3 separate regions of the Homo sapiens genome follow, and regions 2 and 3 are each linked to region 1. The links come from fine-mapping of genetic effects on gene expression. A gene starts in region 1. Each other region holds a variant in brackets. All regions are shown on one strand. Distances are between the middles of the regions.

Region 1 (10,522 bases):
CTTATAAAAAACTTAGAGGTTTCTTCTTCCATAACTTTTACTATTTATATATGTGGTTTCCTACAAATATTTTTCTTATACTTTTTTATATGTAAGAAAAATAAAGTTTTCCTTATTCTGCTGCAAAGTAGCTTCAAAATTCCTATTCCACAGAGGATTTCTAATCTCTTCTATTTTGTTTTTTAAGATAATCTTTATTACTGTCTTGTTCTGTTTTACATTCTAATTAATTCATTATGCTCATGCAAAGGTAAGAAGAAGAAAGCTGTTGTGATGAGAAGGTATCTAGAGATGTCATTAATAATATTAATTTAATACTGATTTTAAATATTTTAGTCTTTTAGTCTTTTCCTTGTCAATCCTCACTATACTCCCCATGAGATATAAGAAGGAGTAATGGCTCTATTTTACAAAGTTGAAGGCAATTTGTGCAGAGCACTTTTCATGACTGTTTAGGCCACAATACAAAACCCTTTAAAATTCAACTAGCTATGTCTTTTTTAAACAAGTTTATTGAGGTATAATTGGCATACAATAAACTGTGCATGATTAAAATGTACGAGTTGAGAAGTTTCAACATATGCATCTGTGAAACCATCATTTAAAATCAAGAAGATGAACATATCCATCACTCCAAAAAGTTTCCTCCCACTCCTTTGTGGTACTACCCTCCCACCCATCTCCACAACACTGCTCCCGCATTCCCAGGCAACCACTGATCTGCATTTTGTCACTATACATTAGTTTGGATTGCCTAGAATTGTATATGAATGGCGTCACACCACAGGTACTCTTTTATTGCGGGGGAGGATCTGGCTTCTTTCACTCAAAATAGTTATTTTGAGACTCATCCATGTTGTTGAGGTATACCAATCAACCATTCCTTCTTATTGCTTAGTAATATTCCATTTTGTGGATATGCCACAATTTATTTTCCATTCACCTACTCATGGACATTTGGTTGTTTCCAGTTTGGGCCTATTACAGTTAAAGCTATGTATATTCATGTATAAGCCTCTGTGTAGGCATATGCCTTCATTGCTCTTGGGTAAATACCTAGGAGTAAAATGGTTAGATCATGTGGTAGGTGTATATTTAGCTTTTTAAGAAATAGCCAAACTCTTTTCCAAATTGTTGTATTATTTTACATTTCCAACATGCAGTATACAAGAATTTCTGTTGTTCCACATCCTTGTCAACATGTGATATGATCTGTCTTTCAAATTTTAGCCATTCTAGTAGCTACAGTGCACAGTGAAACCTTATTATTTTCCTGATTTGCATTTCCCTAATGATTAATGGTATTAATTCATGCACTTATTTTGTCATTTATAAATCTTTGGTGAAATGTCTGTTCAAATATTTTGCCCATTTTAAAAAGTTGGGTTGTCTTCTTATTGGGTTGTAAGAGTTATTTATGTATTCTAGTTAGAAGTCTTTTGCCAAATATATGTTTCGCAAATACTTTCTCCAAGTTTGTGGCTTACCTTTTTATTTTCTTAACAGAGTCTTTTAAAAAGCAGAAGTATTTAATTTTGATGAAGTACAATTCATCCTTTTTTTTTTTTTTCATTTATAGTTTGTGCTTTTTGTGCCATCTTTAAGAAGTCTTTGAGAAATCCAAGGTCACTAAGATATCTTCTAGAAGTTTTGTGATTTTAGCTCTTACATTTAGATGTATGATCCATTTTTAGTTAATTTTTACATATAGTATTGATGGCAGTGGCAGCCCGTCTGGAGCAGCTGCTGCAAAGATGCAAGCTGCAGTGAGGGAGGCCTGGCCAGGGCTGCACACTCCACAGAACCATGAAAACAGGAACAGGCTGGAGCCCCACCTGCTTCTGAGTTGGTGGGGTGGGAGCCCCACCCTCCTGGGCACAGCTGCAGCTGCCCAACCACAGCTGTGGACCTGGGCATCCTTGTGCTCTCAGGGGCCCAGGAAGCCCCTTGCCCCCACAGGCTTGAAAGTGCCTGCTCCTGCTGTCTGGCCTCTCCCTGCTTCTGGGGCAGAGCAAAGTTGTGGCCAAGCCCAGACGCTGTCACAATCTGGCAGGTGTGTGCATGCTTGGGGCAACACTGACATGCCAGCCCCCTGCCACCTCAGCCCCCTCTGGACTTTGGACACTGATGAGCATGGGAGGGGAAGCTGAGGGGGCGCTGAGGGCAGCTCAGTGTGGGCCTGCAGGCTCCCGCTGGCACAAACAGCCTTGGTGCCATGGACAGTGGCATGAGGCAGACTGGCTCCTGGGCAAAAAGGGGTGGGTCCTCAGTGAAACCCTACCTTTAGGCAACTGAGAGTCTGAAGCCTGGGGGCTGGGCTGCCAGGTCCTCAGACTGGAGTGAGAACTTATGGCACTTTTTCTACTGCCCATGGACCAATCAGCATGCACTTCCTCCCTCTTGAGCCCATAAATATCCTAGGCTCAGCCAGACTCAAGAAACATGGGGACAACCTGCCTGCGTGTAGGAGCTACCCACTCCAGATCTCCTCTCTGCTGAGGGCTCAGCAGACATCCTGACGACCTGCCTGCAGAAAGGAGCCACCCACTGTGGGTCTCCTCTCAGCTGAGAGCTGGGCAGACAACCGGACAACCTGCCTGCAGAAAGGAGCTACCCACTTAGAGTCTCCTGAGAGCTATACTGTCACTCAATAAAGCACCTCTTCACCCTACTCACCCTCCAATTGTCTGCATACCTCATTATTCCTGGATGTGGGACAACAACTTGGGACCTGCCAAATGGCAGGACTGAAAGAACTGTAACACAAACAGGGCTGAAACACCCCCTCACTCCCCATGTTGCAAGCGATGAGAAGGACAGAAGAGAGAAGGAGAGAAGAGCTTTGACACTTCGAGAAGCCCAGACCTAAGAGCTCCCTGAGCCAGGACTGTAACACCCTCTTGGGGGCTCTGCATTTCCTGGCATCTCAAAGCTTCCAGGTGCCACCACATTCCCTAGTGCCAGCAGTGGAAGCCGCTTGTGGTACTCCTGGTCCAGCCACAGCTTTGCAGGAGCCAGCGCCCATGCCAGCACCTGGAGCCACCCGCCCCGCCACAGCTGGCGTGCCTAGCTGTGCACAGCGGCCAGACCTCGCGCTCACTTGCTCACGCACCCCTCACCACTTTGCGCCTGGCTCGTCCTTGGCAGGCATGGGATCTGGGCCAGTGGCATGAGCCGAGTGCAGCCTGCAAGGCCAAATGGGCAGAATGAGCCCAGTGGGCCTGAGCAAAACTCGGGCAAAGGAGCCACCGGCCACAGAGGTTTCTGGCTGGCAGAGCAACACTCCAAGGATCCTGTGACAGTATGAGGAAAGGAGCAAGATATTAAGAGTTTTTTGGCATATGCTATTCAATTTTTTCAGGTTTATTTGTTGAAAAGATTATCTTTTCCCCCACTGAATTGCCTTGGCATATTTGTCGAAAATCAATTGATGACATATGTATAGATACATCTCTGGGTTCTATATACTGTTCCATTACTCTATCTATTTTCATACCTATACTATACTGTGTTGAGTAGCTCTTATTATAATGTCTTGAGATCAGGTAGTGTAAGTCCCAAAACTTTGTTTTTTTTGATGAAAGTCTTGACTATCCTAGGTCCTTTGCATCTCCATATAAATTTTAGAATTAGTTTGGTCATTTCCATCAAAAAGAAATCTGCTAGAATTTTTATTGGAATTTCCTTAAATCTGTAGGTCAATTTAGGCAGAAGTGATATCTTAAAAATGCTCAGTCTTCTGATTCATGAACATAATGTATCTCTATTTATTTAGGTCTTCTTTAATTTCTCTTAACAATGTTTTTTATTTTATTTTAGATTCAGGGGGTACACGTGTAGTTTTGTTACATGGGTATATCGAACAATGCTGAGGTTTAGGCTTCTAATGATCCAGGTCACCCAAGTGGTGAACATAGTACCCAATAGTAGTTTTTTCTACCCTTTTGGAATCCCCAGTGTTTATTGTTCCCAACTTTGTGTCTGTGTACTCAACGTTTAGCTCCTACTTATAAGTGAGAACATGCGGTATTTGGTTTCCTGTTTCTGCATTATTTTGCTTAGGACAATGGCCTCCAGCTGTATTCATGTTGCTGCAAAAGATATGATCTAGTCCTTTTTGTGGTTGTATAGTATTCCATGGCGTATATGTACCACACTTTCTTTATCCAATCCACTATTGATAAGCACCTGGGTTGATTCCATGTCTTTGCTATTCCATAATATTTTATAGTTTTCAGTATACATGTCTTTCTCATCTTTGGTCAAATTTGTCCCAAATTTGCTGCTTTTTTTTTTTTTTTTTTTTTTGCTGATAAGAGATATTTAAAAATTTTCCATTTCTAATTGTTCATTGCTAGTATATAGAAATACAACTGATTTTTGTATATTTGATTTTGTATCTTGCAACTTTTGTAAACTCACTTATGAGTTCTAGCAGCTTTTTTGTAGTATTCCACAATTTTCTTATGCAAATAAATGCAGTGCTACAACTTCCTTTCCAACTTGGATGCCTTTTATATATTTGTCTTTTTTTATTTCATTGACCAGAACTTCCAATACAATGTTTAATTGAAGGCAATTTTTACAGAGTAATATTTCTAACTCCCAGGCCCGGATTAGGCTGAACTATGGAATCTTGTTGAATTTGATATCTTTTGGAATTTATTAAATCATTATTTATACTTCATTTTTAAGCTTTTTCCTTTTCCAGTGTTCAAATATTCATCAAATGTTCAAATATTGAACAAGTACCATGCTGGCTGTCAGGGAAATAATGGTGCACAAACAGGCATGGACCTAGCGCTAATGAAGTCTTACCGTACTACCGAGGCAGTTTAAAACAGGAATTAAAAACACAGGTTCAGGGTTCTGTCTGCTTGGGTTTGAATCTGGCTCTGCTCCTTAATGGTTGTTTGACCTTGGAAAAGTTAATCGACTTTTCTAAGCCTGTGTCTTAGTGAAGGTATTAATAATACCTACTCACAGGATTGCTGTGAAGATTAAACGAATTAATACCTTTAAAGTCCTTAAAATACGGTTTGACATATAGTAAATGGTCAAAGAGTATTATTATTAGAGGGAAGAATTAGCTCTTCACAAGGTGAATCTACAAGTGACTGGTGAAGGAGGGGTGTACAAACAAGAAACATAAAAACCAGTTTAACTGCTAAGCATAGAGGCAGCAGTGTCAGCTGTACCTGGGTTAAAATCCTTGCTCTGCTGTTTATTGTCTAGGCAACTTTGACCAGACGACTTAAACAAGAGCAATGCCCGTAAAGTGCCTAGTGCAGTATTTGGCACACAACAGATGCTTAAAAGACAGCAATTACTGATTCAGACGTCCCGCAGAGCAGTAATATCACTAACATGTGCTCATCATCATATCTATCATTTATCAAAGCTCAGGATTTTGAACCTTGTAATTACTTTTCATACATTCTCTTATGCTTAACAACTCGGCTAGGTGAACACAATCCATTGCCTCATAAAGAAACAAGATGACCTTTGTGTATCTATCATCAGTGGGGAGGCTGGAGGTCTGGGAAGTGGTACCTTGGAGCCCAACTGTTGACCAAACCAGGGCTCTCAGTGCGGCCTTGGTCGCCAGCGGGGCGCTCCACTTTCCGCTCCGGAGATGGCACCAGGAGAGATGGGAGTCTGCCAGGCTGTTTCCATGGCCACCTCATGAAGCCCCTGCTCCGGGAGCGTGACAGGCGAGACTCTCCTTCGCCGCCACCTCTCGTCTCAGATGACCATCTGGGCTCGAAAGCCCTCAGGAGCTGCGGAGCGCGGGTCGGTAGGGGCGCTGCAGAGGAAGGTTGGGCGCCGTCTCCCGGCAACGCGCGGGGGGCGGGGCTTTGCGTCACAGAGGTGCGACCGGGTCCCGGCCTGAGTCGCGGCCACCCGCAGGTCTGAGCTGTGGGCTGAGGCAGCGCAGCCGCTGCCGCAGGGTGCGCGATGCCTTGAACCTGGGGTGAGCTCCGCGGCGCTGTCCTTTCGTGTTTCCCTTGCTAGCTGCTCCAGGACTCTGGGTCTGGGAAGAGAAACCCCAGAGGGCCCTCCGCTGCCGAGCCAGGCTTCCGCGGGGAGACAGGCCTAGCCCCGCCGCCCTCCCCGGGCCTCGGATTGGGGCGTGGGGACGGCTGGGGAGGCCATTCTATTGACGCCCGTCTTCTGCCCGGCGGGTTCCAGTTGCCCGGGGTGGCGGTGGCTTGTCCCGCCTCGGGGTGGTTCTGAGGGACCCGGAGAGAGTTTTTCCTTCTCTATCCCAAAACGGTTGTTTGAATATTGCCGCCGGCTCAGTCATTCGGCCGCCGGACTTAGCTGTTGGTTAAATGTCCAGGTGCGCTTGAGGAGGGGCTGAGGCGGCGTAGCCAGAGCGAGCGCTAGGGTGGCCCGCGGGCTCGGTCTCCGCCGGGCTGGACACCCAAATAAGAAACCTTTTGCCTGGGACGATAGCTCAGAAATAGCCACGTCGATCTACTTAGCCAGCCCCACACTTATGAATTGGCTTAGGCTGCTACCCTTCCCAAAGGTCTTTCCTTGTCAAACTAGCTGCTACCTTGAGACCCGGCTAAGAAAAGAACGTTTTCTTGCTAATAATAAGAAGGTAGTGATTACACAGCAGGAGCAGAAGGCTTCTGTGTTAGCTTTTGAAATTATTCCTTCAGTTATTTGTCTCGGCGTTACAAAATGTGGATTTACGATTGTTATTGAAATCGATCCCTATGCCCCTTATTAAAGGTAGTGTACCTTTTATATTCTGACACTGTCCTATTTAGCGGTGCCAGCTAATTCAGTTCTTGCCTCTGGCATATATATAAAGCTGCTGGAACACTTTCAATTGTTTATAATTCTTACATCTTCAGCACGAATTTATTCGTTTTCACTCCCTTCTGCCCATTCTTCTTGCTATAAAATGACCTCTACCCATTCAGAATTTTGTCTGGGGGCATGAGCTGCCACCGGCCGACGATCCTAAATTAGTCACCTCCATGTCGAAGTCACCCGTCTGAGAAGTGATGCTTTCTGAATTCAGAGCTCAAAAATAGTATGGATTTTTATCCTTTTCTTTCACATTGCCTGACTTCAGTTTCTAGAACTTTTTCTCAAGAATATGACTATATGTTTCAAAAATTAATATTTGTCATTTGGTGTAAATGAACTTTATATTCGATGTGTGTAGCCTGATCCTTCTTGGTTCCCATCTAAATACAAACACGCTTTCCTTCCCAAAAAGGCAAGGGAGGTCCAGAGAGAATTCTTACAAGTCTAATATGCTTTTTCCAATATGAAATGCATTTAGTAAACACACTGTTACTGTGAGAAATCCATATTCTTAATCTCCTAGTACGGCACTCTATCCTTTTGTAGTTTCTCTCTCCTTCTCTCTCTAATATATATGTATGTATCTTTTTCTGATCAAGATCTTTGATTCTGGAACAGGCATTCTGGACTCTATAGTGACTCTGGCCTAATTATTTCACTATGTATCTATATTAACTTGTCTTGAAAAAAAAAAGTTGATATCTGTTTACAGATCTACAGTTTGAGTAAACAATGAGTAATAAAGTAAATAATATCCTTAGGGACCCAGTCAGTAGTACTTGGTATTTATTACTGATGTTAAAGTTGACTTGACAGTGAAAATCATTGATGTTTATTTCAATTAAATCCTTTTAGGTGAGGTTGATACAAAATTTGATGGAGAACTGGTTTCAGAGAGGTTTTTAAAATACTACAGTGCAGTACTTGTCATTTAGTCATTTTGGTGCATTTTCAGCCTTTTCCATTTTGCTTTAGTTATTTTATGAATGAATTATGGTTTAAATTTTTAGGAGTTTTTGAGCAGTTTTTTCGTTTTTGCTTTGCCAGTTACCCATGATGTAATTTTAATATTTTTATAAGGAATATTTGAACTTCCACAATTCATTTGTTAGAAAAATAAGTGATTCACTATGTACCACCCACTAGAGAATGTGGCATTTTTGGAATCCTTGATCTTGTGCATTTCAAAATAACAGTTCTTTATTTAGAAAATCCTTCAAATGCTTTTTGAAAGCATATTTTTATCTTGCAAAAAATGACTGTGTTATAGGTGGCACAATAATATGAGAGCTGCTAGTTCTTTGAGAAATCTTGACCAGAAATTCATCTTTTGTTGAATTCTGTGCCAGTGGTTTGCAAATTATGTTTCTATGCAATACCACTGTTGCATGGCCTAGGGGGGAGTATCTTGTTAAAATCAAATAGTAAATGTTTCCCAGTTTACATAAGCATTAATTTAATGACAGATTTTCACAGTTTTACATTTTCTTTCATACATATTTTTAACTTCTGCTTCTCTCCAACCTAGTACTAATAGATGACTGACCAAATTAACAAAAGTCAAAAGAATACTAAGTGAATAATAATAAAACAAAAACTGCCAATGGTATTTACTGCATTTATTCAGTAAACATCTATTGAGTGCTTGTGTATCTGCCAGAAGACAGACCATAGCTGCTGTCCTCAAGAAGCTCACTAGAGGGAAATGGCCAAGTGACTTAACGAATGTCATAGTATGATAGAAATATGTGCAGTCACCAAAGAGGGACACTGAAAAGCTGTGGTGGTTGACTAGAGGATGGCCTCAACAGATTGTTTTCGTGAACATGCACTCTGTGTTGTGGTTTTATATTGTATGCAGATCACAGAGTCATATCTTATTTTCACACCCATATAGTGATAGATGTTAATATTTATCAATATTTTATGGTTTTCAAAATAAACTAAATGTCAAGCCCTCTTTCTGGAACCAGGTTGAAAACCACTTCTGCAGGCTCTCTCAGGTAGTCTCTAGATACTGTTGCATTTTAATGCAAGGAGTTAGTGATGAAGTTTCCCAGATACCAAGTACAGTTACAAGATAACAAGTTAATATGCTGCCTCAAATTATAAACTTTACTCAAAGTTAGGGCAGCAGATGAAAACAATGCTGAAACAAAGGGGATCATTTTCTATTAATAACTCAATAAATAAGCAACTAACTCTTCTTTTGAAATATGGTTTTGGTGGGTAATGTAGGGTAGCAAAATACGCCACTTTGGCATAAGGATTATTTTGAGTTAAAAGCACATTGAAAAGCAGCAGATGTAAGAAGTGCCCACTGACCCTCCTAATTCTTCCTGAAGGCTGGAGATAAAACAGCCATGTGAAAGATGTCCTCTCTATGCCAGGAGGAAGACATTATCATTACTAGAAGTGGGCAATCAAAGCTGAGAGAAATGTGTTCAAAGAAGCCTTCTTAAAGTAACCCTTATCTTCCTAGTCACTTTTCTGTGATTAACTGGCCCAGCCCAAACCCTTGTGTCTTGTCATGTTTTCACAGTTTACTTCTCCTTTGTCCAATCTACTATGTAAGCTTTTGGCCTTAATTACTTTTTTTAGTCCTTATTTTTCTTGAGGGCTCCTGTGTATGTATAAAAATTACTAAATAAAATTTGTGTGTTTTTCTCCTGTTAATCTGTCTTAGGTTAGTTTAATTCTTGGGCCCAGCTGGAGACCTCAGAGAGCAGAGGGAGAGAAATTCTATCTCCCCTATACCACGTTGGTTAAATTATCATAGGTATTTATATTAAATATTGAGACTATATATTTCAAAAGTTCAGTTTTTTTCTTTGTTAAGTAATGTAGATATTATTCAAAGTTTTCAGCCTGGTTGACTAGAATCTTAATTACATTTTCATTAAATTGGTACAGGAATGTTAGAGGAAGGTTCAGTTTCATTTTGGGAATAAAATGTTAGGTTAAAGGTCACCTACTCCACTTCCCACCCAGGTAAAAATCCCTGTAACACTTATTAGATGTACTTCTAATCTTTACCTAAACACTTCCATACTTCCAATGAGAGGGAGCTCACATGTAGCAGCCATTTCCACTTCTGGATGGTGCGACATGCTTATCATCAACTGAAATCTGCCTTTCTAATTTATACTTACTATACTTAGTGGCCATCCCATTCTCTGTAAATGAATCTTGTTTTTCCACATGACAGCTCCTCAGATATTTAAACAAACTTATATTGCTTCATTGTTACCAAACTATGACTATCTAGAATAAACCTCTTTTTTTTTCTATGCCCATGAATATGTTCTAATTTATTAGTATCCTTTAAAGCCAACTGCTTAGAGCTGAATACAGACTTTTCAGTGTGGCCTAACCATTGCAAAGCATAATGGACTAGTAGGCTGCTTGCTCAAGATACCTGCTTCTAGCAAGAGTTTAGGATTATTTTAGCATACTTGTTGCCCCCGTTATACTGTTGACTTATTTTGATTAAAAACCCCAGACTTGGCCGGGTGCGGCAGCTCATGCCTGTAATCCTCGGCCTGGGAGGCCGAGGCGGGAGGATTGCTTGAGCCCAGGAGTTTGTTACCAGACTGGGCAACAAACTCTGTTTGTTTAAAGAGACTCCATCTCTTTAAAAAACACAAAAACAAAAACCCAGACCTTCTGTATTTTAACTGCTTTTGAGCACATC
Region 2 (10,522 bases), 79 kb before region 1:
TTACCAGGCAGAGCTCAGTCTAAAATCTAGTTGCCACACAAAGCCACATCTCAGGGGAAGGCAGACGTGTGGAGGGACATGTGGGCCCCTCAGTCCTGGGCTGCTTTCCTCCTCCAACCGGAGTCAGTGGCTCATAAACAGGAATCCCTTGATGGAGTGCCCAGTCATGCCTAGGATTAGCTAGCAAGGGTGAAATAGTGATTTCCTTTGTGATGCCCCCAAGCCTTCCTTCCTGATGCCTGTTAACAAAAGCTTTAAGTCCATCTGCAAGTGTGAAGGCTGCTCCGCCCATGGTGAGTTTCTTCCAGTGCCCATGGTGTCCCCTCAGCTTCTGTTGGCCATCAAACCAGGCACAGCGGTCTCCTGTGGGGTTGCCACCCTATGCAGGGTATGATTGGGGGCATCCAGAGATAGAGACCAGATAACAGGACAAAGCAATTCTGACCAGTCCTGTCTCCTCCAGAAGGCCCACTTGGAATATAAACCAAGGCACCTGGATTCCACAGAGTGAGGCCCAGCACCCTCAGAGCAGGAGGCTTCTCCTGGCTCCTCTACAGAGGGAAATGTGGGGCAGGGAAGAAAAGAAGGTGCCCGATAGCACTCAAGCACAATTGAGGGGATTTGTGTGCTGGCAGGGACACATTCCAATGCTGGCCACTATCCTATTCAGATACCTTCATGATGCTCTGAACTGGAGGCACAGGGGAGCTGGGGCGTGGCTGCTGATGTTAACATTTTACACACAAAACTCCTCCTAGTCAGAAAGACCCAACTAACTAGCGGATCAAACAGCACAGGGCCCAGAGGAGTTGCCACAGTCCCGGATCTCTAGCGGAAGTTGGAGCCAAGGGGCCGATAGCCAGGGATTTGCCTTCATGGGCCTCTGGTTATCAGAGCCTCCTCACTCCCTACACTCCTGCAGATTTCGCCCACCCAGAGAAGTTACAGGGAACCTGGAGGCCCCATGTCACTAACCACTACCCTGGCACCTGAGTGCCCAGCCCCTACCCGACTCCAGTGTGCTGAAGCTGATGGGCTGTGGGCCTCTGGCTTGCTAACCAAATGGGTAAAGGGTCCTTGACCATGACTTCCACTTGGATCATGAGCACCCTCTGCTGGCCCCTTCCTTTCCTCCCTTCTCGGGGGACAAACCATTCCCAAGTGCCCTCTGCCACACAGCAGACTGAAGATCCATAAGTCACAGGGGCAAGGAGCTCTGCCAGGTGCCTCCACTCAGGTCCTTGGTCTGGTGCTAATTGGCTTAGAGCAGGTGTGAGCCCACTTGGGCCACATCCCATCTCTCCCCGGGCTCTGCCAGCTGAGGCCCTAAGCCAGCAATTCTCAGGCCTCACTTTTCTGGAGAGTTTAAAAACTCAAGAGGTGCCATAAAAGGCCATTGATGACCTGAGTGTGTGGGGCAATCGCAGCTCCTGGAAGTGAGCAGTCACTGCCCGGAATGACAGGGCAGGAAGATCCAGCCAGCCATGAGATCGCCAAAGCTGTTTCCAGGAGCAGCGCCATACACACCCAGGGGACCCTCCTGTCCCAGAGCCCTTAGTTCTGCCCCTGTGTGTCCTTTGCAAACCTCAGCCACAGTGAGGCCAAGCAGTTCATTTACCCTGAAGCCCACAGACTTGTTTAAAAAGACCATGCCAAGGGTAGTCCCTGACCCATGGAAAGTGGTGCTGACAGTGGCGTTTCAGGCACCTTCACGGACTGGGAGAGGAACTATTTCCTGGTGCTTCTCAGGCCTCACCATGCCATGCCTGCCCACCCACCTCTCAGGCTGCCCCGCTTTCCCACCTAAGATAGTGGTCGCAGAACCATAGACAGAGCCAAGAGAACAGCCCAGCCCAGTGTCATCATCTGAAATTGTTATCTCTTTCTTTTACCACAAAGGAGCACATCCTGATGAGAAATCAGAACTTAGTGGGGCTCAAGCTTCCAGACCTTAGTGAAGCAGCTGAGCAGGAAAAAGGTAGGTGGGGTTGGGGCAGATGCTGTCTCAGCGAGTGCTGATTTGTCTGTGCCAGATCAAGGAAGGTGAATGTGTAAACACAAGACTTCCTGTGTCTTCCTCAGGAAACATTTGCTGGTGAATGAATGAATCCGATTGTGTCTTCTGCCCGCTCAGCACCTCCAAACCTGCCTCCTTCCAACCAGCCCCCAGGCCTCGCTGTCAGCCCTCCCTAAGCCATGCTGGCATCTAGTGGGCCTGGAAGGGTGCCTCAGGCCTGAACTTTTGACACTTCCTTTTCCTCGTACACCCAGGAAGCTGCCCAAACTGAAGAGTTCCTCTTTTCAAGGCATCACGGCCATCTCTTGCTTACTAATCTGCTGTCACCACAAAGTCCATACCCCAGCCCTGCCCTGCTGGGTAGCTGCAGGCCCCTTCCTCCAAGCCTCTGGTTCCCTGTCCACCTTCTGCCAGAACCATGGCGGGGAAAATGGTTCTGAAAATGAGGCTTCAGCCCCCGCACTGCCTCCCTCTCTGCACTCACCTCTGCCGATGTTCTCAGTAGGGTTCTGACCCCTCTAGATCTAGCTGGGCAAGTCCAGCCCTGCTCCCAGTGCCCCCAACACCCTTCCTCGGCCCCATTCTCCTGCATGAGTATGTCGAGCCCCACCACGAGTTGGAACTGTAAGCCCTGCTACCACTCAGGTGACCTGGGCAAGCTATTCAACCTCCCTGGGCATGTAAAACCAGGCTAAGAACAGTACCTGCCTTCTTAGGTGATTATGGAGATTAAAGCAGCTAATATCTATAAAGTACCTAAAACAATACCTGGTACATGACAGGTGTTATCTAGGTGTCAGCTATTATCCCTAGAGAAGAAGCCCCCAAGGGCAGGAGTGTGTGTGTGTGTGTGTGTGTGTGTCCACTGCTTACAACAATGCCTGGCACTACTAGGGCCTGCATAGGTATTTGTTGAATGAACGAATGAAATTGTATGAGATGTGGCAGGGGGCTAGGTGAACCTGTAATCCCAGCACTTTGGGAGGGAGGTGGCTTGCTTGAGCTGAGGACTTTGAGACCAGTCTGGGCAGCATGACGAAGCCCCATCTCTACAAAAAATACAAAAATTACCTGGGCATGGTGACACACACCTGTAGTCCCAGCTACCCGGGAGGCTGAGGTGGGAGGATCGCTTGAGCCTGGGAGGTCAAGGCTGCAGTGAACTGTGATCGTGCCACTGTACTCTAGGGTCTCGCTCTGGGGTACAGAGTGAGATCCTGTCTCAAAAGAAACATTTTTAAAAAGATGTGGCAGGAGCATTGAGATAGGTACATGAAAATAATTTGTAACTGTAACCATAGTGCCATGAGGTGGGCAAAGAGGCATGGGTGAGTGGAGAGAGATGAGTGTTTCCAACAGGCCAGGCTCCTGGCTCTTCCCTCTTCCCAGAGCCTCTTCTCTGTGGCCACTCACCCTCTAGCCTCTGTGCCTCTGTCCCCGCGGCATCTCCCTCCTGCTGGGCTATCTCCCTCCTCTCTGAGTCATATGGTACCTGTTCCTTAAAGCAGTGGGTTAGTCCCACCAGCTCTGCAATCTTCTACTTTCTTGACTTTCTTTTGTATTTTACTCTATATAGTACTCCCTTTTTCAGAGGGGGTGGGGGACTATTTTTTATTGTAAATATATATAACATTCAACTTGCCATTTTAGCCATTTTTAAGTATACAGTTCAGTGGCAGTAAGTACATTCATATTATGAAGCCATCACCACTATCCATTTCTAGAACGTTTTCATCATTGCAAACTGAAATGCCATACTCATTAAAACAATAACTCTTTATTCCCTCCCTCCCCAGCCCCTGGTGATCACCTTCTACTTTCTGTCTCTATGTATTTGACTCTTCTAGATCCCTCCTAGAAATGGAATCATACAGTATCTGTCCTTTTGTGTCGAGCTCATTTCAATTAGTAAAACATCTTCAAGGTTCATCCGTGTCACCTAGTCCTTTTAATTCAATCTTAATTAATAAACTTCCCATAGCATTTTCCACAGTATAAACCATTTTGTTACCTCTGATTTTATGTAATCTTCCCAGTCAGCTAAGAGGGGCAGGGATTCTTGCTCTTATAGTTGAGGAAACTGAGGCCC[G/A]AGGATCTCCTGACTCCAAATCTCATGGTTTGGCCATCTCATGAACAGTTTTAAAACTTTTTTTAAGCTGCACAACATTTCAGACAAGCTGATCTGTAGGAGGCCAGCGTGTTGGGGAGATGCAAATGGGGCTGCTCTGGTTGAAGGGGATAGAAGGGCTTGGATCCTTCATCTTCTGAGACTGTGGGCCCAAGGTACCTCCAGGGACCCAGGCTTCACAGAGCACCATTTGAAAATCCTTGCCCCGCTTCAAGCTGCTGGGGGCCAGTCTCAGCATAAGAGCCCTATGGATTCTTGGGTGAATGTGTCCAGGATGTCACTAACAATGGTGGAAGCCCCTGGTCTGAACTGTAGTAACTTACACCTACCTATTTATTCAGCATTAATAAGAAGGTTCCCAGAAGTAAAATTTCAAACAGTGTTTTTTCCCAAGGGCAAAATATTTTAAATAACCATCTTTAAAGAGATCTTTTGAAAATGCAGCATATACTTCTCTAATTATAATTTTAAATTTACTAAAGCATATTTAAAACACTGGAAAAAACACTTTAAAATTTCACCCACAACCCCATCAATTCTGAAAAACTAACAATTTTTCTTCTTTGCAATATTTGCCCATATTTATAATGTTTTCAGTTGATTTGATGAATAGATACAGCTTCTTTTTTTTACTTGTTATTTTATACTCAGCAATTTCTCCTCAGTTATGATTTAATGGGTGCATAGTTCCTCTTGTATTGACCTATCTATTGTTCTTTGAACTAGGATTAACAATGCTAGTATAAACAATTATGGACCGTTAGTTGTTCTTTTTTCTTCCTTTAAATCATTCCCTTGAGATAAGTGTTCAGACTTGAGAATCACAAGGTTAAAGAGTAGAAACATTTGCATTTCCCAAATTACTTACAATGAATAACGCTACTGACAAAGACTGAATGGACATCTTTCTCTTACGCATTACCCGTGCTGGTGTTTGCTTCTGCTCCTTATTATTCAGAATATAGTAAGAATAATCAATAATTGTCATTGTTTTAAGTTTATTATTATTAGTGTGAAATTTCATTATTATTTCAATTAATTTGCTAGGAAGCTCAAACTTAAAATGTTAAAATAGTCACTTTGTTTTCTTACTGGGTGACTTAACTTCTTACATCTTTGCCCGTGTACCCATTTAGGTCTGGGGTTTTTCGTTGATTTGTTTGGTTTTTGTTGGTAATATATGTAAACTTGATACATTATAGATATTAGCCCTTAATTGGCTTTCTTTCTTTTGGGGGGGGCTGTATTTTAATATATTTTCATTCAATCTTTTTTTTGCTTTTTAATACGTTTTGTGTTATTTTAGAGGAATTGTAAAGATTTTACATAATCATGTTTGCCTATCTTTCCCTTTGAGAAGTCTTCTATTATTTCAATCATTATAAAAATACTACTTCTCCCCAGTTGTAATAATATTTCCACTTTTTTTCTCTATTAAAAACACTGTTATAATGAATACTATCTTACATAGATCTTTATAGAAATCTGTTTTTTCCATGGGCTACTATTCTAGACTTGCAATTGATTGGTTAAAAGTATTTACTTTTAAATGTATATGTGCACACTGCCAGATTAGCTTACAAAATTATACCAATTTAGACATCCACTACCTACAGCAAAACTTTATTATCCAATATTAATAGGGCATAAGATGGATCTTAGAAGTAAAATTATCAGGCAAATGAATGTGACTCCTATAAGCACCAAATTTTAAAAATAAAATTAACCATGGTCAGTGTCCAACAATATACACTCCCTCTCATTTTCTCTCAGTTCTAGGGTCTGGATGCTTAAGAGCTCAGACTTCATCACTTACCAGCTGCATAGCCTTGGTCAAGGTTCTAATTCTCTCCACGCTTCAGTTTGTTCATCTTTTAAAGGAGGTTAATAACAGTACCTACTTCACTAAGCTGCTGTAATGTTTGCATGTGATACTGGTCTTTATTCCAGCAGGAACCTGGCATACATTTTCATTTCTGTCATTTAGGTTGTAGAACTCTATCTTGCCAACCAAATGGGATATTCTTGTACACTGTGCTCCACAGTGCTAGAGATGTGGTGGGCAACCCTCCGTGTTTAATGAATACTTGCAGACTTGTGACTTTCTTTTCTTATATTCTGAAAGCCCCATCAAAGAGCCCCGTCCCCTCCCATACCCAGGATAAAAGGCTTTGGGAGCATTTTATGAGAGCTGGCTCAGATTGTATTTATAGGCACTAAATACAGCCCTGCATATGAACTCATGGGGAAAAATCCAGTCTCTTATGATGGTTGTTGGCTGTTCCTTTGAGAAATGGGAAAAGATACTTATCAGAACATTCTGGAGTCTGAAGAATTTTGGCTCTCCTTCAGTTTGTGAGGACTGGGAGGCTCATTTCTGTGCTGCATCTAGTCTTTCCAACAACCCAATCAGTTCCCTTCTCAGGAACTATATTGTATGCTGTTTTGATCTTTGATCAGTTGCAGGTTATTTCAAGCCAAATATGTGAGACTGACTGTGGGCCAGTTCTTAGGCTGTGTGCTGGGGATGCATTAAGTGAAAAGGGTTCAGGCCCCACCATCAGGGAGAAGGCCTTGTCCCAGCTACCATTATCAGTCCCCTTGGCTAACTCAACAGCCTGCAACCTGGTCCCCTCTCCCTGCACTCCCAACCCCCAACCCAGCTCACACCATGGCCAACACAGCAGCCGCAGGGATCTCTAGAAGGCAAATCTGTTTCAGCATCTTCAGAGGCTTCATTCTGCTCTTAGGAAGAGCACTTGAATCCTCAGTAGAACCTACAAGGCCCTGAATAGTTAACCCCACCCACTTCCCCAGCATATTCTAGGGCCACACTCACTCTCACTCACAATATTTTGGCCTGCCTTCGGCAGCTCATTCTTTCCTCTTCTTACGCATGGCACATTCTGTCTTCTGCATGGAATGTTCTTCCTCTCTCCCTCTTTGCCTAATGAACTCCCAACTCAATCTTTAGATATCTGCTCATGTCACTTTTCTTGGGAAGGGTTTGCTGGTACCTTCGGATCCCTTCTCCTTTGTAAAATCTCTCAGTGTGAAATTGTTTGGATGTTTCTCTGATTAATCTCTGTTCCCCTGAATAATGAGCTCCAGAGGATGTGGCATGTCAGTTTTGCTTAGCATTGTATCCTTAGCTCCCAGCTCATTGCCAGGGACATAGTAAACACTCAATAAACATTAAACAAATGTATGAACGAATAAGCTCACTGTCTAGGAGAGGAAACATAAGAATAGACAAAGTCACTACGATAAATTGTGATAAAACTTTAACAGGCCATAAAGTACCTGGGAACAAAGAGGAAGAAGCAGCTAGCTCAGTGGGGTTGAGTCAGGGAAGGTTTTCAGGAGGAGCCACCTTGAGCTGGGGAAGAGAAAGTCATCCCAAGCAGGGGGACAGCAGAAGCAAAAGCATGTAGGCATCTTCTAGTGCTTGGCATACTTCAGGAACAGAAGGAATGTCATGTGAACTAAGTGTGAGCTACACGTCCCAGAGAGATGGGCAACAAGGTGGGAACAGTGGGCTGAGACCAAGGAAATTGAAGGCTTTGAAGGCCAATTAATGAGTTTGAATTTCATTTAGGACACTTTGGAAAGAGAAGCCTGCAGGTAAGGAAGCATCAGGATCAAATCTATATTTTAGAATAATTCTTCTGGACAGATTGTGAGAGCTGGCCTGAAACAGCAGAGGCTAGAGACAGGGAGACACCAGGTAAAAGGATAGGGAAATAGCCTGGTGAGAGGTAATGAGGTGGTAGTAAATGTGGACAGGATAGTTTGACAGCTATTGGAGATCAGCTTGTCAGGACTTGATGAGGAGATGGAGTTGAGAGGCAGACCAGGAATACCACCAGGCACCTGTCTGCATGGTTGTGAGGGTGATGAATTGTGAGACAGGAGGAGGAGTTTGCTTGAGAAGGAAGACAGTGAATTTGAGTTTGGACATGTCAAATGCCCACGGAAAGCAGCTTGAATGCAACAGACAAACCTGGTTTTGCATTCTGGCTGTACTGCTGATAAGCTGGACCCTAGTAAATCACTTTAACTCAGCTGAGCTTCAGTTTCTCCAGAAAATGCATTTCATAATACATTCTTTGTACTTTCAGAAACCAATTTCTCTTCTTTGGAGGAAGCAATTACCAAAATTCAGCAGGTCCTACAGTTTCACTTCACTTCAAGTTCAATTAAACTCTAATACTTTTAATTTCAAAAAAGTATATCTAGTATAATCTCCCTCTTTTTCCCTTGCTCCTTCTGTATTTGTGGGGAAGGAGGTGTTTAAGCTATTTTTTATTTGCAGTACTATTGTAAGAAATGACAAAGTGTATCTACTGCATAGTTGATGTTCAGTAAATGGTGGCTCTTGAAATGATTTTTATTCTCCTTAACCAGGTGGCAACGTCTAGAAGGTAGTTGGCTATCTGGACCTGGATTTTGAGGGACACGTAGGCTGAGGCAGAGAAGTACATCGAATGGACAGTCCTTCCAAAACCCCCAGTCTAGACTCAGAGCCTCAGGTCTTGGGCAGGAAAGAGGCCTCCCTGAGAAGAAAGAGGTAAAAAAAAGTTTATCCCCAACTAGCAGCTTTGACTTTTAGGAACCATCCTGGGACTCAGAGCATCTTTCAGAGCTCCAAAAGTAATTTTTCCAAGTCCCTGACATGGTCAGAAACAAATATTTTCATTGGAATGAGCTAGTCCTGGGAGATATATTTGAAAATAAATTTATTACTTTTTGTTGAAAGTGGCTTATGTTCATATCTAAAAATTCAACCAATAGTGAAAAATACAAGGAAGAAAGTAAAAATAGCTTACACTAAACACCTCCTTCCCCACTAATACAGAAGGAGGAAGGGAAAAAGAGGGAGATTATACTAGATATACTTGTTTGAAATTAAAACTATTAGAATTTAATTGAACTTGAAGTGAAACTATAAGACTTGCTGAATTTTGGTAACTGCTTCCTCCAAAGAAGAGAAATTGGTTTCTAAAAGTATAAAAAATGTATTATGAAATGCATAAAGGGTTTGGAGTTACTGAGGTAGTTTTTTGTTTTTTGTTTTTTGTTTTTTGTTTTTGCTTTGGTATGAGTTTTAATTCAATTTTTATAAATAATCATGTCCATAGTACAAAATTCAAAAAGTACAAAATGAGACATAGGAAAAAGTAAGTCTCATTACATCTCTGTCCCCCAGTAGCAGAGGCAACCACTGTCACTATGTTTTAGTGTAACTTCTAGATATATTCCAAGCATTTCTAAATATAGACATATATGTAAAAGTGGATTTTTCTTTTTTTTTTTTTTTGAGATGGAGTCTCACTGTCACCCAGGCTGGAGTGCAGTGGTGCCATCTCAGCTCACTGCAAGCTCCACCTCCCGGATTCACGCCGCTCTCCTTCCTCGGCCGGGACTACAGGCGCTCGCCACCACGCCGGGCTAATTTTTTGTATTTTTAGTAGAGCTAGGGTTTCACCACGTTAGCCAGGATGGTCTCGATGTCCTGACCTCGTGATCCGCCCGCCTCGGCCTCCCAAAGGGCTGAGATTACAGGCGAGAGCCACCGCGCCCAGCCAAAAGTGGATTTTTTAAACATAAATCGTAGTATATTATACAAGGTGTTCCAAACCTTGCTTTTTTCACTTAGTAATATACTTTTTTTTATTATTATACTTTAAGTTCTAAGGTACATGTGCACAACGTGCAAGTTTGTTACATATGTATACATGTGCCATGTTGGTGTGCTGCACCCATTAACTCGTCATTTACATTAGGTATATCTGCTAATGCTATCCCTCCCCCATCCCCCGGACCCCACCACAGGCCCCGGTGTGTGATGTTCCCCTTCCTGTGTCCAAGTGTTCTCATTGTTCAATTCCCGCCTATGAGTGAGAACATGCGGTGTTTGGTTTTTTGTCCCTGCGATAGTTTGCTGAGAATGATGGTTTCCAGCTTCATCCATGTCCCTACAAAGGACATGAACTCATCCTTTTTTATGGGTGCATAGTATTCCATGGTGTATATGTGCCACATTTTCTTAATCCAGTCTATCATTGATGGACATTTGGGTTGGTTCCAAGTCTTTGCTATTGTGAATAGTGCTGCAATAAACATACGTGTGCATGTGTCTTTATAACAGCATGATTTATAATCCTTTGGGTATATATCCAGTAATGGGATGGCTGGGTCAAATGGTATTTCTACTTCTAGATCCTTGAGGAATCGCCACACTGTCTTCCACAATGGTTGAACCAGTTCATAGTCCCACCAACAGTGTAAAAGTGTTCCTATTTCTCCATATCCTCTCCAGCACCTGTTGTTTCCTGACTTTTTAATGATCGCCATTCTAACTGGGGTGAGATGGT
Region 3 (10,522 bases), 29 kb after region 1:
TTATTGCTGAGTAATGTCTGTTATGTGGATACCATAGCTTGTTTATTCACCTATTGAGGGAAATTAGATTATTTTCCATATTTATCTATTACAAAATAAAGGTACTAGATACATTCATGGACAAGTCATTTTATGGATGTATTTTGGTTTTTTTCTTGGGTGAATACCTAGACATGGAATGGCTAGATCATATGGTATGTGTGTGTTTAACTTTTTAAAAAGCTGCCAGCTATTTTCCAAAGCAGTCTTGTGCCATTTTACACCCCCACTAGCAGCATATGAGATTGCATTGAATAAATATATCAATTTAGGGAGAGTGAATTTCTTACTAGTGCATCTTCCTATCCACATACGCTGTATATTTCTCCACTTATTTAGGTCTTCTTTAATTTCTGTCACCAATTTTTTTAGTTTTCAGTGTTGCATATCTTTGACATCTATCCCCAAGTATTTCATAGTTTTATGCTATTTTAAATGGTATTTAAAATTTCAATTTATGATTGATACTAGTATATGGAAATACAATAGATATTTGTATATCAACCTTGTATCCTGCGCCCTTATTAAACTCATGTATCAGTTCTGGTAGTATTTTTGTAGATTCCATAGGCTCTTCTTGAATGTCCGAATATCATTTTTCAAAGACTTTTTTTCTGATTCAGAATTCTAGACTTGAGAGTATTTTTTCTTTCAGTATGTTAATAATGTTGCTTCACACTCATCTTGTTTGCATTGTTTCTAATGAGAACTCTGTCATCCTTTTTTCCTCTGTAGGTAATGTGCCATTTTTTCCCTCTGTTTTTAAGGTTGTTTTCTTTTCACTGGTTTTGAGCACTTTGATTATGATGTGCCTTAGAGTAGTTTTTTCATGTTTCTTGTGCTTGGGGTTTATTGAGCTTCTTGGATTTGTTGATTTACGGTGTCATCAAATTTGGAAATTTTTCAGCCATTATTTTTTCAGATTTTTTTCTATCTTCTCTCCCCTCTCCTGTGATTCCAATTACCATGTATTAGCCCACTTGAAGTTGTCTCACAGCTCACTGGTGCTATTTTTTTCTTTCTTTTTTGAGTCTTTCTCTGGGTTTCATCCTGGATAGTTACTATTGCTATCTCTTTTCATATTCACCATTTTTCTTCAATGTCTAACTTGCCATTAATTCTATCCAGTGTATTTTTTTAACCTCAGATAATTTTCATTTCTAGAAGTTTGATTTGGGTTTTTATTATCTTTCATGTCTCTTCTTACTATCTTTGAGCTTTCCTCTAGTTTTTTAACTATATAGAATATAGCTATAATAACTTTCCATTTTATCTGCTAATTCTAATATCTGTGTTAGTTCTGGGTGGTTATGATTGATTTTTCTCTTTATTATAGATTATATTTTTCTGCTGCTTTTTTGTATGTCTGGTAGTTCTCAACTGGATGCCAGACTTTGTGGCAGACTTTGTGAATTTTACCTTTTTGGGTATTGGATATTTTTGTATTCCTATGAATATTCTTGAGCTTTTTTTCTGGACTATAGTTAAGTGACTTGGAAACAGTTTGATTCTTTTGGATCTTGCTTTTGTGATTTGTTAGGCAGGACCAGAGCAGTATTTAGTTTAGAACTAATTATGTCCCACTAATAGCAAGACCCTTTAGAGAACTCTACTGATACCCCAAGAGTTATGAGGTTTTCCAGTCTGGCTGGTGAAACAGGCAGTATCCCAGGCCCAGTGAGCTTTAGGGGACTATCCCCTCAAAGCCCTTTGATTGATTGTTCAGCCTCGGTAGTGTCTTCACATGCACACACTGATCAGCACTCTGCTGAGTATTCTGGCGGGGACACTTCCGTAGACCTCTGGAATTTTCCCTCTGTGCAGCTTTCCATTACCCTGCCCTGTAAACCCTAGCTGTTTGGCCCCCCAAGATTCTCAGCTCTGTGTGTTCAGCTCAGGGAGTTTGCCATGTTCCATCAAGCTTCCCGCTTCTTGATCAGGGGCTAGAAACTCTCGAGGCTGTAAGCTGAGGCAAGTATAGGTCTCACCTTCTTTGACTCCCATGTCCCAGGGATCACTGTCCTTTGTTGTCTGATGGCCAGTGCTTTATTTGAAAGATTGTATGAAACCATTGTTTTAGTAATTTTAGGTGGGAAGATAAATCTAGCCTCTGTTGGTTGGAAACAGAAGTTGACTATTTTTAAATTGTGATGTTTTGTGCACAGAAGAGCATACATATAATTATCTTGTAAAATACCTCTGAAGAACTAGAAATCAACCTAAATAATATATGCCAGCTGTAGCTTTCACATTTAGTTTTTGGAACAGAGTTCTAAATTTTTGCATAAAAGCCAAAGAGCAGTTGATACAAATAATTACTTTGGTCCCAGATTTCACTGAGAGATGAAAAGAAAAACATTTTTCTCTGCATAATATGTCTCTGGCTCAAATACGGTATTTTTTAAATTACCAAAATAATGTTTGACCAGAAAAAAATCCTTTTCGAAAACATAATCTTATTTAAGTGATCATATATGAGTTCTTCCCCTGCCAGAAAAATTACTGTGCATGTAAAGTTTATCTTTTAACTTTGTATGCTCCATTTTTATATAAGTCTTCCTGTTGCTTATGAGCCATAGGAATTTTTTCAGACCTTTAAGCAAGCAACAGGTAGATATATTGTTGAAAGTCATGTAGATATTTCTTAGAAAAATAATTAATAATATCCTTTCTTCTTGTCATATTCCCCTGCCACTGCCAAGAAGTTATTCCTAGAGTAATGGCTTCCATTTAAATAATCACGAATAAGCATTTATACTTGACACTTTGACCAAATCTTCCATTGATGCGAGGGAATTTCCTCTTGGGACTCAGAAGGAATTTTTATTATAAAGGAATACTTTACCTGTTTAGGTATGGGGATGCGAATTGCTGCATTGTTGGTAGCAACAAAAGATGGGAAAAAAAACTAAATGTCCTTCTGCAGGAGACTAGTTAAACAAATTATGGCATAGCGATACAGTGTATGTTAAAAAGAATAAACAGCTCTAACAGGTGCTGATACATACTAGTCTGTAAGATATATTGACAAGTGGAGAAATGTGTGTGTGCACGTGCGTGCATGTGTGTACACATAAGCTTAATCCAGCTTAGTCTATCTCTGGAGGAATATATAAGAAACTGGTAACTGTGGTTGCCCCTGGGAAAGAGAATTGAAGATTGAGATAGGAGGGAGGGATTTATTTTTCACTATATATTTCTATGCTATTTCCTTTTTAAAAGCCATGTGCATGTATTACTTTAAATAAAATCCTGTTTTTAAAAAAGAAGAAAGCAAACTGTTTTGTTTTGACTTCTCTAATAGGAGTGATCGACACAGGAATTGCCCTATTTGTCGCCTACAGATGACTGGAGCAAATGAATCTTGGGTGGTATCAGATGCACCCACTGAAGATGATATGGCTAACTATATTCTTAACATGGCTGATGAGGCAGGCCAGCCCCACAGGCCATGACCTTGAAGTGAAAGTCTTCTGTTGCTATTGTGGGCTCAAATATTTGGTCATGGGGGAAGAATGTAGGGTTGTGGCACTGGCACAGACACAGGAAAATCCATTTTCCCCACTCTTTTATTTTTGCTATTCTGATCATTTGTCCCCCTTTTAAAAATAAACTTCCCATGTCTTCCATTTGTGGTACTAAAATTTGCTACTGTTTTAGACCATATTTTCCTATTATTTATCTGTTCAAATTTGTATTATTACAACTAATAGCTCTTGAATTCTTTGCTAAAGGTAACAGCAACACTTCCAGAGGCTTCTAAAACACTACTGTTTTGCAGGGCAGGAGTATTCTGGAATCTTTTTACTTAGATATAAAATAAACCTCGAATATTAAAAAGTTGTAGCCATCTGAGAGAGGAAAGTTTAAGTGACTGAAAATGTAGAATACTTCAACGTGCATGTTACTACTTAAAACTAGTCTTTCTGCTGGAATCTAAGGAGTATATATATATATGCCCCCTTGTGGTTAATTATTGCTCCTTTAATAATTTTTACTTGAAATGATCCACAATTATTTCATAACTTTAGCAGTGTGTTTTGGAACTACTGTACTTAAAGGTTTGTTTGTTTGTTTTTGCCATACTGTATAATTTGGGTGAGGTCTACAAAATTGGGTGTGACTTTCCTTTGCAAATGGATTTCTCCTGGGGAATTTTCTTGGCTGTTCTGGAAATGCTTTCCCACAGCTGGGTAACTGTTCTAAATGGCTTTGATAATGCTCACACATCTTGGAGTTTCAGAAGGAAATTATTCTGCATCACAAATACTAAATTTTATATTTCTAAATTACTATAGGTCATTTAATATTGGTTTATGGTGCTTTTATTTCCTTAACTTGAAAACATCTTTCTGAGATTTCAGAGTCCTCAAATTTCTTAGATTAAGAGACAAGAGGCCAGTGCAGTGGTTCACACCTGTAATCCCAGCACTTTGGGAGGCCGAGGTGGGTGGATCATTTGAGGTTAGGAGTTTGAGACCAGCCTGGCCAACATGGCGAAATCCTCTCTCTACTAAAATACAAAAATTAGCTGGGCATGGTGGCAGGTGCCTGTAATCTCAGCTACTCGGGAGGCTGAGGCAGAATTGCTTGAACCCAGGAGGTGGAGGTTGCAGTGAGCCGAGATCACACCACTGCACTCCAGCCTGGGAGACAGAACGAGACTCCTAATCAAAAAAAAAA[C/AC]ACAAGAAAATAGAGTGAGGCTTTTTTACCGTATATACATAAAATACTTATGAAAATTAGAAGATAATTTGGCATTCCTACTGTTTCACTGTACTTCCATTGAAATACTCTTTCCATTAAAATATTCTGAAACAATATAGTAATAATGGAATTGTGATCTTCAGTTGCACCTCAACCATTTTTTTTGCTTATGAACTAAAATTTCTAACATTAACATTTCGGCATGTAATAAAACAAGGGCCTATCTCCTTTAAAATTTAACATTCCATGTAACTTTTCTGACTTATCATTCATAAGTTGCAAATATTACTATTTTCCTAAACCAGGGTACACAATTTAAGTTGCCACTTATTGATGACAGAATTTCTGGATAGTAGGATTTTAATAGGCGAGCAAATAAAATTCAAATCAATTTCAAGGAAAAACATCTGGCCAGGGGTAGCTTGATTTCGCCCCCAAAAATACTGAAGACTAATCCATTGACATTCATAATGGGACAGCTAAGTACCAAATAGCTAACTACTCCCTATGGAGGTTTATGCAAGCAGAGTACCAGGGGTTCCATCATATCAACCTGGCAATGCACTTGGTGGTTGTGTGACCTTGAGAAAGTCTCTTACTCTTGTTTATGTGTTCTTACTTTAGAAACTGAGACTTTATTTGTGGTTTTCACACTATTTCAGCAGCAAAAACTTTTTCAAGGAAAATCTTACAGAACCTTTAAACACGTGTGCATACACACATACCCTATACCCCACTATATAAAAGTCATATTATTATAAATTTCCTTATTATATAAACTTTATATACTATAAATGTGATTAAGTCAATGAATAAAAACATTAATGCATTGGTGATATCCAGCATGTTTGAATTTGGTGAGTAACACACATATAGTGGGAGTCGTTTTTTTTAAAAAAATTTTTTAATTAAATTCAAGTCAAATTTGCAGAACCCTGTATCTCCTCCATAGATTCTTAGTATTCCATGGAACATATTTTGAAAACCTTGGGATAGATGATCCACTGAAATCTTTTCCAGCTCTAAGATTTTAAATTGTCCTTTTAGATTAGACTTGCTGAGTTTAATTCAGATTACCTAATTTTAAAATGTTTCTGAAAAGTGAACAGAGTTACCTTACAGAGTTTTGGATCTTTCCAGGGATAGCCAATGATTTTATCCCCCAGAATCCTTCACCTTTCAAGGAGTTATTTAACAATGAGCCCAGTGACTCAATAGGGCCCAAACCTTTTTATTTTACAATATGAGCTCCAAGACACTTACTGATCTACTGTGAATATAAAATGTTATTAGCCTTATCAAATAAATAAATGAGCACAGCTCTTTGTTCGCTCTATTGAACTGGGTGATAATTATTTAGATGTGAATGTTAGGTCAGTTCTACTGTAATAACTAATCGTAAAAGTTGTAAATTTGTTTAATGGATGAAATGTACACTTTTTGTATTCTGTACAGCTTTGTCTTTTTTAAATATGAAGTACTTAAATGTACTTACTATGATAGGAAATATAATGTGTGCCTTCTAGGATTTGTGAAGTGGTTTCATGAACTCTAAGGAATTTGTTTTCCCTATCCTAACTCAGTAACAGAGGGTTTACTCCGATTATGTATAGAACCTTAGTTTGAGAAAATGAATTTTACTATGTACTGAATTTAGAGGTTGAGAATAATAGGATCTGTGTTATTCTTAGTACCCACTGATAAATTGTGCAATAAATAATCTTTCGCAAGTGATTTTAGCTAATTGAAGAGATTATTTTCCTATGTAATTTCACATTCTAATATACTAAATGTTTATATTCCTTAGAGAACTATTTTATATTGTGCGCTGGGGGCTTGTGATGTTTGTGTGCTGTTTTAAAATTCATTTCAAATTGGACTCGATTTCCTTATATCTAATATATATCTGGGAGAAAAGGCTGCTTGAAAATATCTTTTGATTCAGTGATTTTTAACATTGGGAAGTTGAGTTTATTAAAAGGTAGTCTGAAGAATTTGCATTTTTAACTGCTATTGTCTGAAGTCAAGCTTAGTCTATCCGGGAATAAGAAAACTACTTGCAGATGAGGGAAGTTAACAGGTCACTCACATTCATGCTGGGCCACACAATGACGATACAATACAAACCTAAGCAGCTGACAACAGACTCATTTGTTCGTATGTCTATTCACCCTGCTGTAGCAGTCCTCAACCTTTTTGGCACCAGGGACTGCATTCATGGAAGACCATTTTTCCACAGACCAGGGTTGGGGTGGGAATAGTTTCGGGATGAAATTTTTCCACCTCAGATCATCAGGCATTAGTTAGATTCTCATAAGGTGCATGCAACCTAGATCCCTCGTATGCGCAGTTCACAGTAGAGTTCATGCTCCTTGAGAATCTAATACCGCTGCTGATCTGACAGGAGGTGGAGCTCAGGCAATAATACTCACTCGCCCGCGGCTCAACTCCTGCTGTGCGGCCTGGTTCCTAACAGGCAGCAGACCAGTACTGTCCACAGCCCAGGGGTTGTGGACCCCTACCCCAACAGACAGCAAAAATAAAATGCTCAACCCTATTGTAGTTTGTTTACCTTGTAAAATCATTTCCAAAATATAAGAATGTAATTAGAGAAACATCGTAGAATCTTAGTGCTGAAAAGTGCAAGGACATAAGAATGAGTGGCAGTTGGTAGTTAAATTGACTGTATCATCATACTGTGGAGAAATGCACATTTTACTGTCAAAATACATAAAAGCCTTTGCAGAGATAGGTTTTGACACGCTTGCAGCTGTTTATAGTCTTACTCTCTGTCATCTTCTATCTTACTAATTGCAAAAATTTCCAAGGAACTGTTTATCTGGTTAGTATTCCCCTAGTTACACTTGTTCTTTATAATGATCATAGTTCAGGCAGAGTATTTGGGTATATCACCTTCAGTCATGTCTCAAACGCAGGAAATGAAGAATATTGTTTCACCAACACTCAGAAGTAAAGAGAAAGCAAGAGAAAAGTGCTTTCGGCTCTTGTTTAATCCAAGAGGCCGTGAAAAATCACAACCCAGGAGCTGTGATTTGTTTTCACGAGGCAAAGAGCAATGATGTCGATCGGTTTCAGCGGTACAATTTGAAGTAACACATAAAGTGAACTTGAGCCCTTAAGGATAAAGAAGGGATAACTGCCTCAAAAACTGTTGCTTTAGAAACCTAAGCCAGTATACAATTAATTGCCTCTTATTCCAGTTGCAAACACAAAGGAAAGTAGGGATTTGTCCCCCAAAAGGCCAATTAAGTATAGCAATGTAATAAAAGCACAAAGTGCTATAGAAAAGATGTCAGAAAAGCTTGCAGGACACCGCTGCTAGCCCCATACCCCGAGCCAACCAAACCCCAAAGACACCCCATACAGTTTATGTAGCTTACTTCCCCAAAGCAATACACTGAAAATGTTTCGACGGGCTCATATCACCCCATAAACAAATAGGTTTGGTCCTAGCCTTTCTATTAGCTCTTAGTAGGATTACACATGCAAGCATCCCCGCCCCAGTGAGTCACCCTCTAAATCACCACGATCAAAAGGAACAGGTATCAAGCACGCAGCAACGCAGCTCAAAACGCTTAGCCTAGCCACACCTCCACGGGAGACAGCAGTGATAAACCTTTAGCAATAAACCAAAGTTTAACTAAGCCATACTAACCCCAGGGTTGGTCAATTTCGTGCCAGCCACCGCGGTCACACGATTAACCCAAGTCAATAGAAACCGGCATAAAGAGTGTTTTAGATCAATTCCCCTCAATAAAGCTAAAATTCATGTGAGTTGTAAAAAACTCCAGTTGATACAAAATAAACTACGAAAGTGGCTTTAATGCATCTGAACACAGAATAACTAAGACCCAAACTGGGATTAGATACCCCACTATGCTTAGCCCTAAACTTCAACAGTTAAATTAACAAAACTGCTCGCCAGAACACTACGAGCCACAGCTTAAAACTCAAAGGACCTGGCGGTGCTTCATATCCCTCTAGAGGAGCCTGTTCTGTAATCGATAAACCCCGATCAACCTCACCACCTCTTGCTCAGCCTATATACCGCCACCTTCAGCAAACCCTGACGAAGGCCGCAAAGTAAGCGCAAGTACCCACGTAAAGACGTTAGGTCAAGGTGTAGCCCATGAGGTGGCAAGAAATGGGCTACATTTTCTACTTCAGAAAACTACGATAACCCTGATGAAATTTAAGGGTCGAAGGTGGATTTAGCAGTAAACTAAGAGTAGAGTGCTTAGTTGAACAGGGCCCTGAAGCGCGTACACACCGCCCGTCACCCTCCTCAAGTATACTTCAAAGGACACTTAACTAAAACCCCTACGCATTTATATAGAGGAGATAAGTCGTAACATGGTAAGTGTACTGGAAAGTGCACTTGGACGAACCAGAGTGTAGCTTAACACAAAGCACCCAACTTACACTTAGGAGATTTCAACTCAACTTGACCGCTCTGAGCCAAACCTAGCCCCAAACCCATTCCACCTTACTACCGAACAGCTTTAACCAAATCATTTACCCAAATAAAGTATAGGCGATAGAAATTGTAAATCGGCGCAATAGATATAGTACCGCAAGGGAAAGATGAAAAATTGCAACCAAGCATAATACAGCAAGGACTAATCCCTGTACCTTCTGCATAATGAATTAACTAGAAATAACTTTGCAAAGAGAACCAAAGCTAAGACCCCCGAAACCAGACGAGCTACCTAAGAACAGCTAAAAGAGCACACCCGTCTATGTAGCAAAATAGTGGGAAGATTCGTAGGTAGAGGCGACAAACCTACCGAGTCTGGTGATAGCTGGTTGTCCAAGACAGAATCTTAGTTCAACTTTAAATTTACCCACAGAACCCTCCAAATCCCCCTGTAAATTTAACTGTTAGTCCAAAGAGGAACAGCTCTTTGGACACTAGGAAAAAACCTTGTAAAGAGAGTAAAAAATTTAATACCCACAGTAGGCCTAAAAGCAGCCACCAATTAAGAAAGCGTTCAAGCTCGACACCTGTCATCTAAAAAATCCCAAACACATAACTGAACTCCTTGCACCCAATTGGACCAATCTATTACCCTATAGAAGAGCTAATGTTAGTATAAGTAACATGAAAACATTCTCCTCCGCATAAGCCTACATCAGACCAAAATATTAAACTGACAATTAACAGCCCAATATCTATAACCAACCAACAAGCCATTATTACCCCCACTGTTAACCCAACACAGGCATGCCCACAAGGAAAGGTTAAAAAAAGTAAAAGGAACTCGGCAAATCTTACCCCGCCTGTTTACCAAAAACATCACCTCTAGCATTCTCAGTATTAGAGGCACCGCCTGCCCAGTGACATGCGTTTAACGGCCGCGGTACCCTAACTGTGCAAAGGTAGCATAATCACTTGTTCCTTAAATAGGGACTTGTATGAATGGCTCCACGAGGGTTCAGCTGTCTCTTACTTTCAACCAGTGAAATTGACCTGCCCGTGAAGAGGCGGGCATAGTATAACAAGACGAGAAGACCCTATGGAGCTTTAATTCATTAACGCAAACAACACTTAACAAGTCCACAGGCCCTAAACTATCAAACCTGCGTGAAAAATTTCGGTTGGGGCGACCTCGGAGCACAATCCGACCTCCGAGCAACACATGCCGAGACTTCACCAGTCAAAGCGAATTACCACGTTTAATTGATCCAATAACTTGACCAACGGAACAAGTTACCCTAGGGATAACAGCGCAATCCTATTCTAGAGTCCATATCAACA

What was found. PIP is the estimated chance that this variant, and not a neighbour inherited with it, causes the effect.
Region 2: its variant is fine-mapped to the expression of RNF141 in whole blood (TOPMed, PIP 0.96).
Region 3: its variant is fine-mapped to the expression of RNF141 in NK cells (Gilchrist 2021, PIP 0.95). The same link has a PIP of 0.9 or more in monocytes.

What each region holds. Positions count from the first base shown.
Region 1 is chr11:10,536,574-10,547,095 of GRCh38, reverse strand. It overlaps RNF141 (ring finger protein 141), which reads left to right and starts at 5,909. Exons shown (of 6, transcript NM_016422.4): 1 at 5,909-5,974. IRAG1-AS1 (IRAG1 antisense RNA 1) reads right to left here and starts at 5,860. Exons shown (of 4, transcript NR_046375.1): 1 at 5,554-5,860. RefSeq lists an enhancer at 5,724-5,833.
Region 2 is chr11:10,615,234-10,625,755 of GRCh38, reverse strand. It overlaps IRAG1 (inositol 1,4,5-triphosphate receptor associated 1), which reads left to right. Exons shown (of 21, transcript NM_130385.4): 10 at 1,900-1,978. Among named protein-coding and RNA genes, the nearest start is that of LYVE1, 52 kb to the right of the region's middle. RefSeq lists an enhancer at 2,172-2,301 and a silencer at 8,038-8,238. The variant G/A (reference allele first, on the strand shown) is at 4,107.
Region 3 is chr11:10,507,888-10,518,409 of GRCh38, reverse strand. It overlaps RNF141 (ring finger protein 141), which reads left to right. Exons shown (of 6, transcript NM_016422.4): 6 at 3,344-6,737. The coding sequence ends at 3,494. MIR4485 (microRNA 4485) reads left to right here and starts at 10,084; the gene lies at 10,084-10,140. It also overlaps the pseudogene MTRNR2L8. RefSeq lists an enhancer at 6,521-7,431 and a silencer at 8,994-9,288. The variant C/AC (reference allele first, on the strand shown) is at 4,723.